Regions from separate parts of the Homo sapiens genome. Here regions 2 and 3 are each linked to region 1. Evidence: fine-mapped expression QTL. A gene starts in region 1. Each other region holds a variant in brackets. All regions are shown on one strand. Distances are between the middles of the regions.

The links. PIP is the estimated chance that this variant, and not a neighbour inherited with it, causes the effect.
Region 2: its variant is the best candidate, but not a certain one, in a credible set for the expression of HRCT1 in lung (TOPMed, PIP 0.86).
Region 3: its variant is the best candidate, but not a certain one, in a credible set for the expression of HRCT1 in cerebellar hemisphere (GTEx, PIP 0.73).

Annotation. Positions count from the first base shown.
Region 1 is chr9:35,904,033-35,908,273 of GRCh38, reverse strand. It overlaps HRCT1 (histidine rich carboxyl terminus 1), which reads right to left and starts at 2,072. Exons shown (of 1, transcript NM_001039792.2): 1 at 1,138-2,072. The coding sequence starts at 1,986. The coding sequence ends at 1,639. It overlaps LOC124902149 (a long non-coding RNA gene), which reads left to right and starts at 2,604. Exons shown (of 3, transcript XR_007061471.1): 1 at 2,604-3,906. RefSeq lists an enhancer at 2,525-3,406.
Region 2 is chr9:35,966,066-35,970,306 of GRCh38, reverse strand. No RefSeq gene overlaps it. Among named protein-coding and RNA genes, the nearest start is that of OR2S2, 10 kb to the right of the region's middle. The variant C/T (reference allele first, on the strand shown) is at 1,641.
Region 3 is chr9:35,868,307-35,872,547 of GRCh38, reverse strand. OR13J1 (olfactory receptor family 13 subfamily J member 1) reads left to right here and starts at 2,147. Exons shown (of 1, transcript NM_001004487.1): 1 at 2,147-3,085. The coding sequence starts at 2,147. The coding sequence ends at 3,085. The variant C/T (reference allele first, on the strand shown) is at 2,320.

The DNA.
Region 1 (4,241 bases):
ATCAGCCTGGAGATGCCTGGGAAAGGGGCAGGGCTGCAGGGAGCAGGCTGGCAGGAATCCAGGAGGGGGATGGAGGGGGCTGGGCTAGGCAGGGCATGGGAATGGAGAAGGGGGTGGATTTGAAGGACACTGCAGAGAAAATCGACACTGCACGGCAGCCTAGGGTCAACTTTCCCAACCCAGAAACCTCAGGTGGGAGAAATCAGTGTGAATTTGCCTCCCTCTCTCTCTCACTCCCTCCTCCTGCAGCCCTCACAGAGAATCCACTGGGAAATAGAAAGGAAAGAGGACATTCTATTCCAGTGAGTCACCAGGTCCCTGAGTCTCTGGCCTGCTCTCCAGCCCCTCCCCACTGCCTCTCCTGGCCCCCAGTCCTTGTCTTCCCCCAATTCCCACCTCAGCTCACAGGCACAGGCTGAAGGCCTCAGAGCCAGGCTTCCTTCCTCGCTGTGGATCCCACTAGCTGTTCACAGAGCATATTCCAACGAGCCTCCAGGCTTCGGCACGTGGGCATCTCTGTTATCCACCCCATTGCAGAGAAGAGGAAAGTGAGACCCCAGCATTCTCCCAAGGCCATCCAACACCCTGCACCCCAGCACCACAGCCTCCACTTTAAAGAACTCCACTCGCTGCCTCCCAGCCCTCCCACCACACACAGGCACCAGCTGGGGCAGGATGGCTGAAAACGCAAGGCTTGGAGAAGAAACCCTGATCCAATTACCAAGGAAACTGGATTCAAGGCAGCCTGTGGATGGGGCTTCCTCGAGTTTCAGAGCTCAGTCTGCCCTGGACATGGGCTGAAAAAAGTACAGGGGCAGAGCCCTGGGGAGCCAGGCTCGCAGCGGCTCCAACCTTCCTCTCCCCGAGGACTGTCCCGCGGAAGGCCAGAGCCCTGCTGGTGCACACAGGACCTGCTGTGGGCAGGGTTTTGTGCAAACCCTGAATCCTCCCTCAGAGCTCAGACAGAGCCCACCCAATTCTTCCCACTCCACAACCAGCCCCTAAGAACCAGACAGAAGCCGCCTGCTCCAGCCACACGCTTCCCATCAGAGAGGGAGGTCCCAGGGCAATGAGGACACAGGCCAGGCAGCTCCCTCCCTCCCACTATGCTGCAATCAAGAGCCTCTTCACAAAAGCTTCTTAGTGGTTTTTATTTTCTTGGACTAAGGCACCGATGAATTGACTGTGCAGCCTCACACTGCCTTCTCCAAACCAAAAGGACATTCTCAGGGCCTCTCCCAGTGCCCTGCCCGCCAGAGGCCTGCAGCAGCCTGATGAGGAGGTCAAGACGGGCACTTCACATCCACTTGTGTGCTGGCTCTGCCAAGACACGCTTGTCATTTCTGGGGCTCACTGGGAGTCACTGTCACAAGACGGGCTGTCCAGCCCCGAAAGAGCACCCTTGCTCTCCACTCCCCAAACCCTTCAGCACTGCAGACCCAGTGTTCCTCCATTCTCTGCTGCCATAGTACACTGGGGCATGCCATGCAAATGCAGCTGGAGCAAGCCCCAGTCTATTGTTCCCCTCGTTCACCCCAGAGATGCATCCTTCCACATGGAAACATGGGGTCCACTTGTCCTGGGAACAGATGGGAGGGCAGGGGCAGCTGCTGTCCACAGGCACCGGCGACAGCAGCCTCAGCGAGCGTGGCGGGGATGGTGGCGGTGGGGGTGGTGGTGGTGGTGGAGGTGGTGAGGGGTGTGGCGGGGGTGGTGGTGGTGGTGGAGGCCCACATTCGGCACATGAGATACGTGGCCAGGATGACGGTGATGGTGAAAGATTCCCAGGTGGCCCCGCCGCCGGAAGGGCCAAGGCTGGGCCCGGCGGACTCGGTTTCCCCCTGCAGCTGTACGGTTCCTCTCCACGTCACAGTCCTGCCGTCCGTGGAAAAGGCAGGTGGCCAGCAGCAGCAGCAGCAGCAGGACCGCCACAGCAGCACCTGTGATCCATCCCACGAGGGCTGTGCTCCCCAGGAGGCCCAGCATCTGGGAGCCGGACAGTCCCTCTCTGCCCAGCAGCTCCTCACTCCTTTCTCCCCTTCAGCAGCCTCCGCTCAGCCCTCTCAGTCACTGAACTTTGTTGTCTCTGCTGCGGGCTGGAGAGCAGCCAGGGAATGTGGGCGAAGCCTGTTTGGACTTGCAACTGCTGGCCAAGGGTGAGGCCAGGCCGCTGTTAACTCTGAGGAGGCCTGGCAGGGAGGCCAGGTGGAGACAGAGGAGCTGTCAGGCTGGATCTGGTTGAGGGAGGAGCCCTGAGTCTAGAGGAAAGAAACCCTCCTGCTGCCTGGCTCAGTGACCTTCCCTCTCCGCACTTCAGTCTCCTCTCGTAGAGACTGTGTAGAACAGAGATGAACAACACGGGCTTTGGAGCCACGCCACTCACTTGCTCTGAGATTGTGCACAAGTTACTTAACCTCTCTGTCCTGTTTCCTCTTCTGTAAAATGGCTGATAACGGTTCCTTCCTCAGTAGGGTGTTCCGAGGACTAAAGGAGTTGAGATGCGTAAAGCAGCAACACCAGCTCCCGTCATGTTTGCAACTGATATTACTGCAATGGACTCCATGGCTCAGGAGACACTGACATCTGAGAGTCTGTGATTCCCTGTCCTGCAGCCTGCAGAGCCCTCCGGGGCTGAGTCAGGCTCTGTCAGATGAGCCATCCCGAGCTCAATGAGCTTGAGAAGCTCAGGGAGGCACCACAGGCAGATTTTGCCATCCAGGGAGGTCCTCCATCCGGCCTGTTCTGGGAGGCAGGAGGGTCTGGGTGTCCTCCCAAGCTTGCTGGGAGGCAAGAAGGAGGCCACTGAGCTCAGAGAGGGCAGGCACAGCCCAGCCTCCTGGTTCCCAGTTCAACAGTCTCAACTGGCCATAAATGGCATGCTCCTTGCTCTGTCACACCCTCCCTGCCCAGCAGTGATGAGTGCCATTCCTGCCTAGTGGAGCATTTACAGAGCGGCAGGATCTGAGCAGTACTGACTGTCCCTCCAAGCCCACCCGCCAGGCCCAAATCCCCTCTGTTCCTCCTGGGAGGCACCGTCCCATCCTGCTGACAGACCTCAGCAACAGGTGCTCACTCTCTCTCTGGGCAACCCTTTCTGCTGTGGGCATGCTGGGCTGTTCTCCAAGCTCTTCCTCACATGCAGTGGGGCTCCCCAAAGCCCCAGCTCTGTGTCTGGCTCTGCAGGGTCCCTCCAGGCTGAGTCCCCAGCCCCTCCCTCCAGGCTCATCTCCCTACCGCCTGGAGGAATGTCTGCAGACACCGCAAGGCTGGTTCTCTGAGTTCTGGCAGCACCTCCACCCTGTGATGTTGGGCAAACCCCTTGCCCTGATCCAGCCTGTCTCCTCTGCAGAACTCCCGGAGCAAGAGGTGACCTCCAGGGACCCTTCCCCCTCTGACCTCAGTCTGAGGTGAGTTCTCTTAGGGAGGCCTCAAACCCTTAATGAAAACCCTCACCAGATGAAAAGGCTAAACATTCCCTTCAACCAAACTGGGCTCAGGGGGCAGCAGGTCTAATGAATCCTGGCACTTCTTTGGCCCTTGGGGGAGCTACTTGAACTTTTAATGATGCTGGAGTAAGAACTCCTCCTGCAGACTCCTGGGGCCCTGGGAGCCCGGCTGCCTTCCCTAGGGAAGTTAAGGAGGGAAGTCTGTTGTGAGGAGGAGGAGGAGGAAGGCAAACAGGGGATTTTCGTCCTCAGAACTTCTCCAGGAAGACTCCCACCCCACACCAGCCGCTGGCGGCGGGGCAGGACCTTACAACTATGAACTTGAAGAACTTCAGTCAGCTCAAACGGCCCCTTGGAATCACCCAGACTCAGCCTTCACTGACAGATGGAGAAACTGAAGCCAGAGAAGGGAAACACTTGCCTAAGTTCTCCCAGCCTCGTGCGCTAATCTATACAGCAGGTACTCAACAGAGCACCATCCCTGCAGTGAGGGAGCCGTCCAGAGTGACAGCCTGAGATCAGCAGGGCCTTCCACAGAGACAGCGGGAAGATGAGGTGGAGATGTGAATAAACCTGGAGGGCGCAGGGGTTGGGAGTGCCCCCTCACACATACACATACACACGACATCTGTTTCCTTAGGTGCAGGTTCACTCTCCATCTGGGTAGTAGGATCCCAAAGTGAACATTTGTTTAGATGCTTTGGGCACTCCTGGGGGCAGTGAGGGACAGCCATTGAGAATACAGTCCTCCATGACTTAACCCATTTATGCCTAAGGTTGCAATTTTTTGAATTT
Region 2 (4,241 bases), 62 kb before region 1:
TAATCCTGAACAAAAAAACAAAGTTGGAGATATCATACTATGTGACCTCCTACTGCAGCTATTGTAGCCAAAATAGCATGGCACTGGCATAAAAAGAAATATATAGAACAATGAAACTGGCTGGGTGGGGTGGCTCACGCCTATAATCCCAGCACTTTGGGAGGCCGAGGTGGGAGGATCACCTGAGGTCAGGAGTTTGAGACCGGACTGGCCAATATGATAAAAACCTGTCTCTACTAAAAATACAATAATTAGCCAGGTATGGTGGTGGGTGCCTGTAATCCCAGCTTCTCAGGAGGCTAAGGTAGGAGAATCGCTTCAATCCAGGAGGCGGAGGTTGCAGTGAGCCGAGATCGCTCCATTGCACTCCCGGCTGGGTGACACAGTGAGACTCCATCTCATTAAAAAAAAAAGGGGGGGGGGCCAGGTGCGGTGGCTCACGCCTGTAATCCCAGCACCTTGGGAGGCCAAGGTGGGTGGATCACAAGGTCAAGAGATGGAGACCATCCTGGCCAACATGGTGAAACCCCATCTCTACTAAAAATACAAAAATTAGCTGAGCGTGGTGGTACATGCCTGTAGTCACAGCTACTTGGGAGGCTAAGGCAGGAGAATTGCTTGAATCTGGGAGGCGCAGGTTGCAGTGAGTCGAGATTGCACCACTGCACTCCAGCCTGGTGACAGAGCAAGATTCTGTCTAAAAAAAAAAACAAACAAAAAAAAACACAATGAAACAGAATACAGAACTCAGAAATAAATTCACATATTTACAGCCAACTGATTTTTGACAGAGGTGCCAGAAACATTCATTGGGGAAAGGACGGTCTCTTCAAAAAATGATGTTGGTAAAACTGGATACCTATATGCAGAATAATGAAACTAAGATACCCATCTCTTACCGTATACAAAAATAAACTAAAGATGAATTAAAGACCCAAAGCTATAAAACTACTAGAAAAAAACATAGGAAAAACACTTTTGGACACTGGTCTGGGCAAAGATTTTTATGAAGAATGCAGAGGCAACAAAACCAAATGCACAGGCAACAAAACCAAAAATAAACAAAGAGGATTATATCAAACTAAAAATCTTCTGCACAGCAAAGGAACTGATCAACACAGTGAAGAGACAATCTGCAGAATGGGAGAAAATATTTATCTGAGAAGGGATTAATATCCAGAATATACAAATAACTCAGTGGCCAAAACCAACAACAACAAAAATACAGTTGGCCCTTGAACAGCGGTTTGAACTGTACAGGTTCACCTATACATAATCTTTCTTCTACCTCTGCCACCTCTGAGACAGCAAGACCAACCCTCCCTTCTCTACTTCCCCCTCCGCCTACTCAACATGAAGACAATAAGGATGAAAACCTTTATGATGATCCACTTCTACTTAATGAATAACAAATATATTTTCTCTTCCTTATGATTCTCTTAATAGCATTTTCTTTTTCTAACTTAATTTATTGTAAGAATAAAGTATATAATACATATAACATACAAAATAAGTGTTAACTGAATGCTTATGACATTGGTAAAGCTTCCAGTCAAGAGTAGGCGATTAAGTTTTTGAGGAGTCAAAAGTTGTATATGGATTTTCAATTGTGCTGGGGGTTGAAGTCACTAACCCTCACA[C/T]TGTTCAAAGGTCAACTATAATATGATTTAAAAATTGGCAAATGTTCTGAATAGACATTTCTCAAAAGAAGACATGCAAATGACCAATGGGTATATGAAAAATGCTCAATATCAGTAATCATCAGGGAAATGCAAATCAAAATTGCAGTGAGACATCATCTCACCCCAGTTAAAATGACTATTATCAAAAGAGAAAAATAACAAATGTTAGCAAGGATGCAGAAAAAAAGAGAATGCACACATTGTTGTTGAGAATATAAATTACTATAGCTATTATGGAAAAGAGTATGAAGGTTCCTGAAAAAACTAAAAAGTCTTACCACGTGATTCAGCAATCCCACTACTGGGTATATATCCAAAGGAAAGGAAATCAGCATGTTGAGGAGCTATCTGCACGCCCGTGTTTATTGCAGCACTATTGACAATAGCAAAGATATGGAGTCAACCTAAGTGTCCATCAAGAGATGAATGAACGAAAAAAATGTGGTTTTTATACAAAATAGAATACTATTTGGCCATAAAAAAGAATAAAACCTGTTATTTGCAGCAACGTGGATGAGCCTGGAGGACATGTTAAGTGAAATAAGCCAGGCACAGAAAGATGGATACCACATGTTTTCACTAATATGTGGAAGTGAAGTAAGTTGATCTCATAGAAGTAGAAAATAGAGTGGTGATAACTAGAGGCTGGGAAGTGGGGGTGGTGGAGGAGGGAGAATTTGACTAATGCATGCAAAATTATAGCTAGAGAGAAGGAATAAGTTCTAGTGTTCTTTAGCCCTGTAAGGTAACTGTAGTTAATAATAATTTATGCTATATTTTCAAATAACCAAAAGAGGGTATTTTGAATGTTTCCAACACAAAGAAATGCTAAATGTTCAAGGTGATGGATATGCTAAAAAAAAAAAAACCTTGGTTTTATCATTGTACATTGTATACAGATATTGAAATGTCACCTTGTACCCCAGGTAACAAATAAAAATTAACTCACAATGGATCGCAGATTTAAATTTAAAGGGTAAAACTATAACTCTTCTAGCAAAAAATATAGGAGAGAAACCTTGAAACATACAGCATAGTGGAGAGTTCTTAGGCATAACAACAAAAAGCAAAATTCATGAAAAAAAGATAAATTTGGATGTCACCAAAACAACTTTCAAAATCTGACAGTATAAAACAACAATAACAATAATTCAATTAGAAAATGGGCAAAATACATGAAGAGACATCTTGTCCAAACAGGATATACAGTGGCAAATAGCAATGAAAAGATGTTCAACATCACTAACTTTTATGCAAACGCAAATTAAGACCATAAGGTATCACTTCACACCTATTGAAACAGGTAGAATAAAACATGTTCACAGCACTGAAGTTGGCAAGGATTCAGAGAAACTAGATCTCTCACACGTTATTAGTGGGAGGTGTATATTGACACACCTACTCTGGAAAACAGGCAGTTCCTAAAAAACTAAATATATGCTTACCATATAACTCAGCAATTACACTAAACTAAATAACACTCTGGCATTTATCCCAGGAAATCAACATTTATGTCTGCACAAAAAAAGCTACTATACAATTGTTCACAGTAGCTTTATTTGCAATAACCAAAAATTGGGACAACAAAAATGTCCTAAAATGGGTGAATGAATAAACAAACTTTGGTACATCCATGCCATAGAATACTACTCAGCAATAAACAGAAATTAACTACTGATACATGCAGCAACATGAATAGACCTCACAGCATTACACTGAGTGAGAAAAAGTCAGTATCAAAAGATTACAAACTATATGATTCCATTTCTATAACATTCTCAAATGACCAAATTGTGGGGATAGAAAACAAATTAGTGGCTGCCAGGGGTTACAGATGGGGAAGGGAGGGGAGTAGGGATGACTAGAAAGGGATAGCATGGGGGAGACCTTTGTGGTGATAGAATAGTACCATGTCTTGATTGCGCTAGTGGTCGTATGAATCCACACATGTGATAAAATGAAATAGAACTATACACATACACATTGCACCAATGTCAATTTCCTGGTATGCTATTGCGTATTGAATATTGTGTATTTAGGTAAGGTGTAACAAGCAGGTGAAACTAGCAGAAGGATACAAGAGACATCTTCGTACTATCTTTGCCACTTTCTATGGATCTATAATTATTTCAAAGTTTAGAGGTTTTTAAAACAGGTAACAATAATTCAATGCCTTCTCATAATAAATATTCTTAGCCAACCAGGAACAAAAGGGAACATTCTTTTGAATGTTATCTATGAAAATCTATGGCAAATATCATACTAAATGGTGAAAATAGTGAAAGTATTCTCTGTGAGATGGGAATGAGGTAAGGATGTTTGCTATTGCCACTTTTCATTCGGCATTGAACTGAAGGAACCAGCTTGTGCAGCAAAGCAAGAAAAAGAGACAAGAAGTCTAAAATTTTTGAAGCAAGAAAAACAACCATCATTATTCACAGATGATATTACTTGTGACCTATGAGAAAATCTAAAATAATTTACAGACATATTATAAGAATTGAAAACAGTTTATGAGAATAGATTGTGGGGACAGATTTTTAAAAAATGAAAATAAAT
Region 3 (4,241 bases), 36 kb after region 1:
CTGCCTGGTTGGGGAAGAAAGGAATGGATTACCAAGGGGCATGAGAAAAATTGTGGGTATATTAGATAAGTTCATTATCTTGATTGTGGTCATGGTTTCATGACTGTATACATTAAAACTAATCAAATTATATGATTTAAATATAGTTGTACATCAACCATCCTTCAATAAAGCTGCAACAAAAAAGCATACTAAAAAGTCACAAGACCTATTTCCATGTATAGATATACATATGCAAATGGCCAGAAAAGTATCTGGATAGATATACACAAAACTAATAACAATAGTTACTTTTGGAAAAGTGGGAGAGTGGGAAGGGTGGGTGAGGCTGGGTATGGAAGAGTGAGGGAAGGGTGAGGCTGGGTATGGGAGAGTGGGAAGGGTGGGTGAGGCTGGGTATGGGAGAGTGGGGGGAGGGTGAGTCTGGGTATGGGAGAGTGGGAAGGGTGGGTGAGGCTGGGTATGGAAGAGTCAGGGGAGGGGGAGGCTGGGTATGGGAGGGTGGGGGAGGACAAGGATGGGTATGGGAGAGTGGGAGGGGTGGGTGAGGCTGGGTACGGAAGAGTGGGGGGACGGTGAGGCTGGGTATGGAAGACTTGGGGGTCCTCTCTGCCTAGGAAGGGTTTGCACTCAGCAGCCTGGGAGCACACCTGTCATCAGTGCTCCCTCACATCTGGCACCACCTGACATGTAGCAGGTCCTCAGTTACTTCTAGGTTCTGGGATGAGTAAGTGAGGGTGGAATAAAAGACGGAAATGGTCTCCTGCAAGGAAGGCACTGAGAGGAACTGTGCTCCACCCAGGCCCAGGATTTGGCATCGTGTCCCATGGGATTAATGACACCGTGCCAGATACCCTGGAACACTAAGGAGAGGTGACTCATGCTCTTTTGCTGGTGAGAGGATTGTGGCAGCACCTGGGGCACTGATATCCATCTAGAATGGTAAAAGAACAAGCATTGTTTGAAACCTAATAGAAGCATACACCTGCTCTGAGCATGGTATAGGGGTCACACTGTTGGGAGGGCTGGATTCTAGCTTCACCTCACCAGAGACCTGTTGTGTGACCTCAGCATCCCCATCTATACAATGGGAGATCCAACAAGTTGGCCTCTGGTCATGTTCCATGCTAATACCCTAGGAGTTCATGAAGTCAAAGCAGCCCTCGCTCTGGCCCACAGAACATAGGGGTTTGGAGCTGGGCCAAAAGCTCCATCAGATTTTAGCTGGGAAACCCACAGGAAGGCAGATTGTGAAGGTCCAATCCACACAGGGTAGCTAATGAAACAGGCCCTGGGCAGGGGACAGGGGAACATGCCCAGCGATAGGCTTCAAGGTCAGCAGCCCTCCAACACACAGCACGGTGTATGCTTTGTTCATGGATACTAGAGTAGGCCTGAAGAGACAGGTCAGACCACTGCAGGCCGAGGACATTCCAGACAGAAGGAATAGCAAATGCGATGGCTCAGAGGCTTCCTTAAAGCCAGGAGAATCTCCACCTGCTCAGAGACCACCTAGCCCACTAGTTCCTCAAAGTGTGGTACCTACATCAGCAGCAGAAGCATCGCCCAGACGCACCGAGTCAGAAACTGGGTTTGGGGCCCAACAATCTGTTTTAACAAACTTTCCAGGTGATTCTGGTGCATGTTAAAGTTTGAGAACTGTTGATCTAGCCTACTGTTTCCCAGACTATGCTCATAGAACACTTATCTGCAGTAGGTTAATGGGTTTTCTGTAAAAGGGGATCCATGATCAAATAAGTTTGGGGTACAGATGTTCTACATTGCTTTGCAGGAGTCATAGATCACATTAGCGTAGTAAACGCTCTGAGAAGTCCTGCAGTAAAGAGCTTTATTTTTTATTAATCCAATGTTGTCTCAAATTGATTTTTCAGATTGCTTACTAATGTTCTCATTAACATTCTCTCAGGGAATGCTGATCTAAATCAATGCTCATTTTTCACATGGATAAACTGAGGCCTAGAGAGGATAAAGGGATTGCCCGACGTCACAGACAGTGAGTGTGGCAGTGCTGGAAAAGATCCTGACAGTCCACCTCGTCCCAGAAAGGGCTCTGTGAGCTTCCCCGCACCCTGTACCCTCTCTCCTTCCATCCCAGCTGTGGACCATCTCTTCAGAACTCTGCAGCATGGAGCCGCTCAACAGAACAGAGGTGTCCGAGTTCTTTCTGAAAGGATTTTCTGGCTACCCAGCCCTGGAGCATCTGCTCTTCCCTCTGTGCTCAGCCATGTACCTGGTGACCCTCCTGGGGAACACAGCCATCATGGCGGTGAGCGTGCTAGATATCCACCTGCACACGCC[C/T]GTGTACTTCTTCCTGGGCAACCTCTCTACCCTGGACATCTGCTACACGCCCACCTTTGTGCCTCTGATGCTGGTCCACCTCCTGTCATCCCGGAAGACCATCTCCTTTGCTGTCTGTGCCATCCAGATGTGTCTGAGCCTGTCCACGGGCTCCACGGAGTGCCTGCTACTGGCCATCACGGCCTATGACCGCTACCTGGCCATCTGCCAGCCACTCAGGTACCACGTGCTCATGAGCCACCGGCTCTGCGTGCTGCTGATGGGAGCTGCCTGGGTCCTCTGCCTCCTCAAGTCGGTGACTGAGATGGTCATCTCCATGAGGCTGCCCTTCTGTGGCCACCACGTGGTCAGTCACTTCACCTGCAAGATCCTGGCAGTGCTGAAGCTGGCATGCGGCAACACGTCGGTCAGCGAAGACTTCCTGCTGGCGGGCTCCATCCTGCTGCTGCCTGTACCCCTGGCATTCATCTGCCTGTCCTACTTGCTCATCCTGGCCACCATCCTGAGGGTGCCCTCGGCCGCCAGGTGCTGCAAAGCCTTCTCCACCTGCTTGGCACACCTGGCTGTAGTGCTGCTTTTCTACGGCACCATCATCTTCATGTACTTGAAGCCCAAGAGTAAGGAAGCCCACATCTCTGATGAGGTCTTCACAGTCCTCTATGCCATGGTCACGACCATGCTGAACCCCACCATCTACAGCCTGAGGAACAAGGAGGTGAAGGAGGCCGCCAGGAAGGTGTGGGGCAGGAGTCGGGCCTCCAGGTGAGGGAGGGCGGGGCTCTGTACAGACGCAGGTCTCAGGTTAGTAGCTGAGGCCATCGTATGCCAATGCCAGTGAAGACATGGCAGGGCTGGGGCTACAGGTCTGGTATCTTCATCCCAGCAAGGCAGCACCAAGTCCCGCTGATCCTGCCACAGAACAGCCCCCAAATCACCCTCTGCTCTCAGCATCACCCTGGCCTTCACACCAGCCTCCTGGCTGGTCCCAAGACTTCAGTCCTGTTCCTCCCTCCAATCTCTCCTTCATGGGGCATCTTTTTGAAATGCACATGTGATTGCATCACTCTTCTCACTGAAATCCCTAGGTGGCTCCCCACTGTTCTCAGAACAAAGTGGAAGCTTTTCAGTGGGGCATTTGAGGCCCTCACAAGCTGGCCCTGCCTGACTGGCTCCCCAGCCTTCCTCCCCTCCCACCCCATCTCCCTCCTCACAGCCACACACACCAGCCAGTTGTGGCCCCCACATGCCCTGCACCACCCAGCTCTGTGCTCTCCTTGTTTCTCCCCACGAGGCAGCACCCCCTCCCCTATCCCCAGCACACTTCTCCATATGTAAAAGGACTGACTGCCTGACCCTTCAGGCCCAGCTCAAATGCCACCTCCACCAGGAAGCCACCCCACCTTGCTCCTCTTGCTGTGCCCCTCTGTGTTTTCAGCATTACTCCAAGAGCAGGGAGTGTCAGATTCTACTCTCTCCCAAGGTCCAGCCTTGCCCAACTCTAGGCCCTGCACAAGTTTCTTAAATAGAGATATTAACATGTCAATGTAGGGGTGACAATGGCAGAGCCTAGAGTTCTTCCCAAAACTGAGCAGAGCTGAGACGGAGTCCACAGATGACGAGAATGGCCCAGCTTCCCTGGTAGGTGACAGTAGAGGCAGCAATGAGGCCTGTATTAGTCAGGGTTCTCTTAGAGGGACAGAACTAATAGGATAGAGGAGTTTATTAAGTATTAACTTACACGATCACAAGGTTCCACAATAGGCTGAGGAGCAAGGAGAACCAGTCCGAGTCCCCAGACTGAAGAACTTGGAGTCCATTGTTCAAGGGACGGAAACATCCAGCATGGGAGAAAGATGTAGGCTCGGAGGCTAGGCCCGTCTCTCCTTTTCACGTTTTTCTGCCTGCTTTATATTCACTGGAAA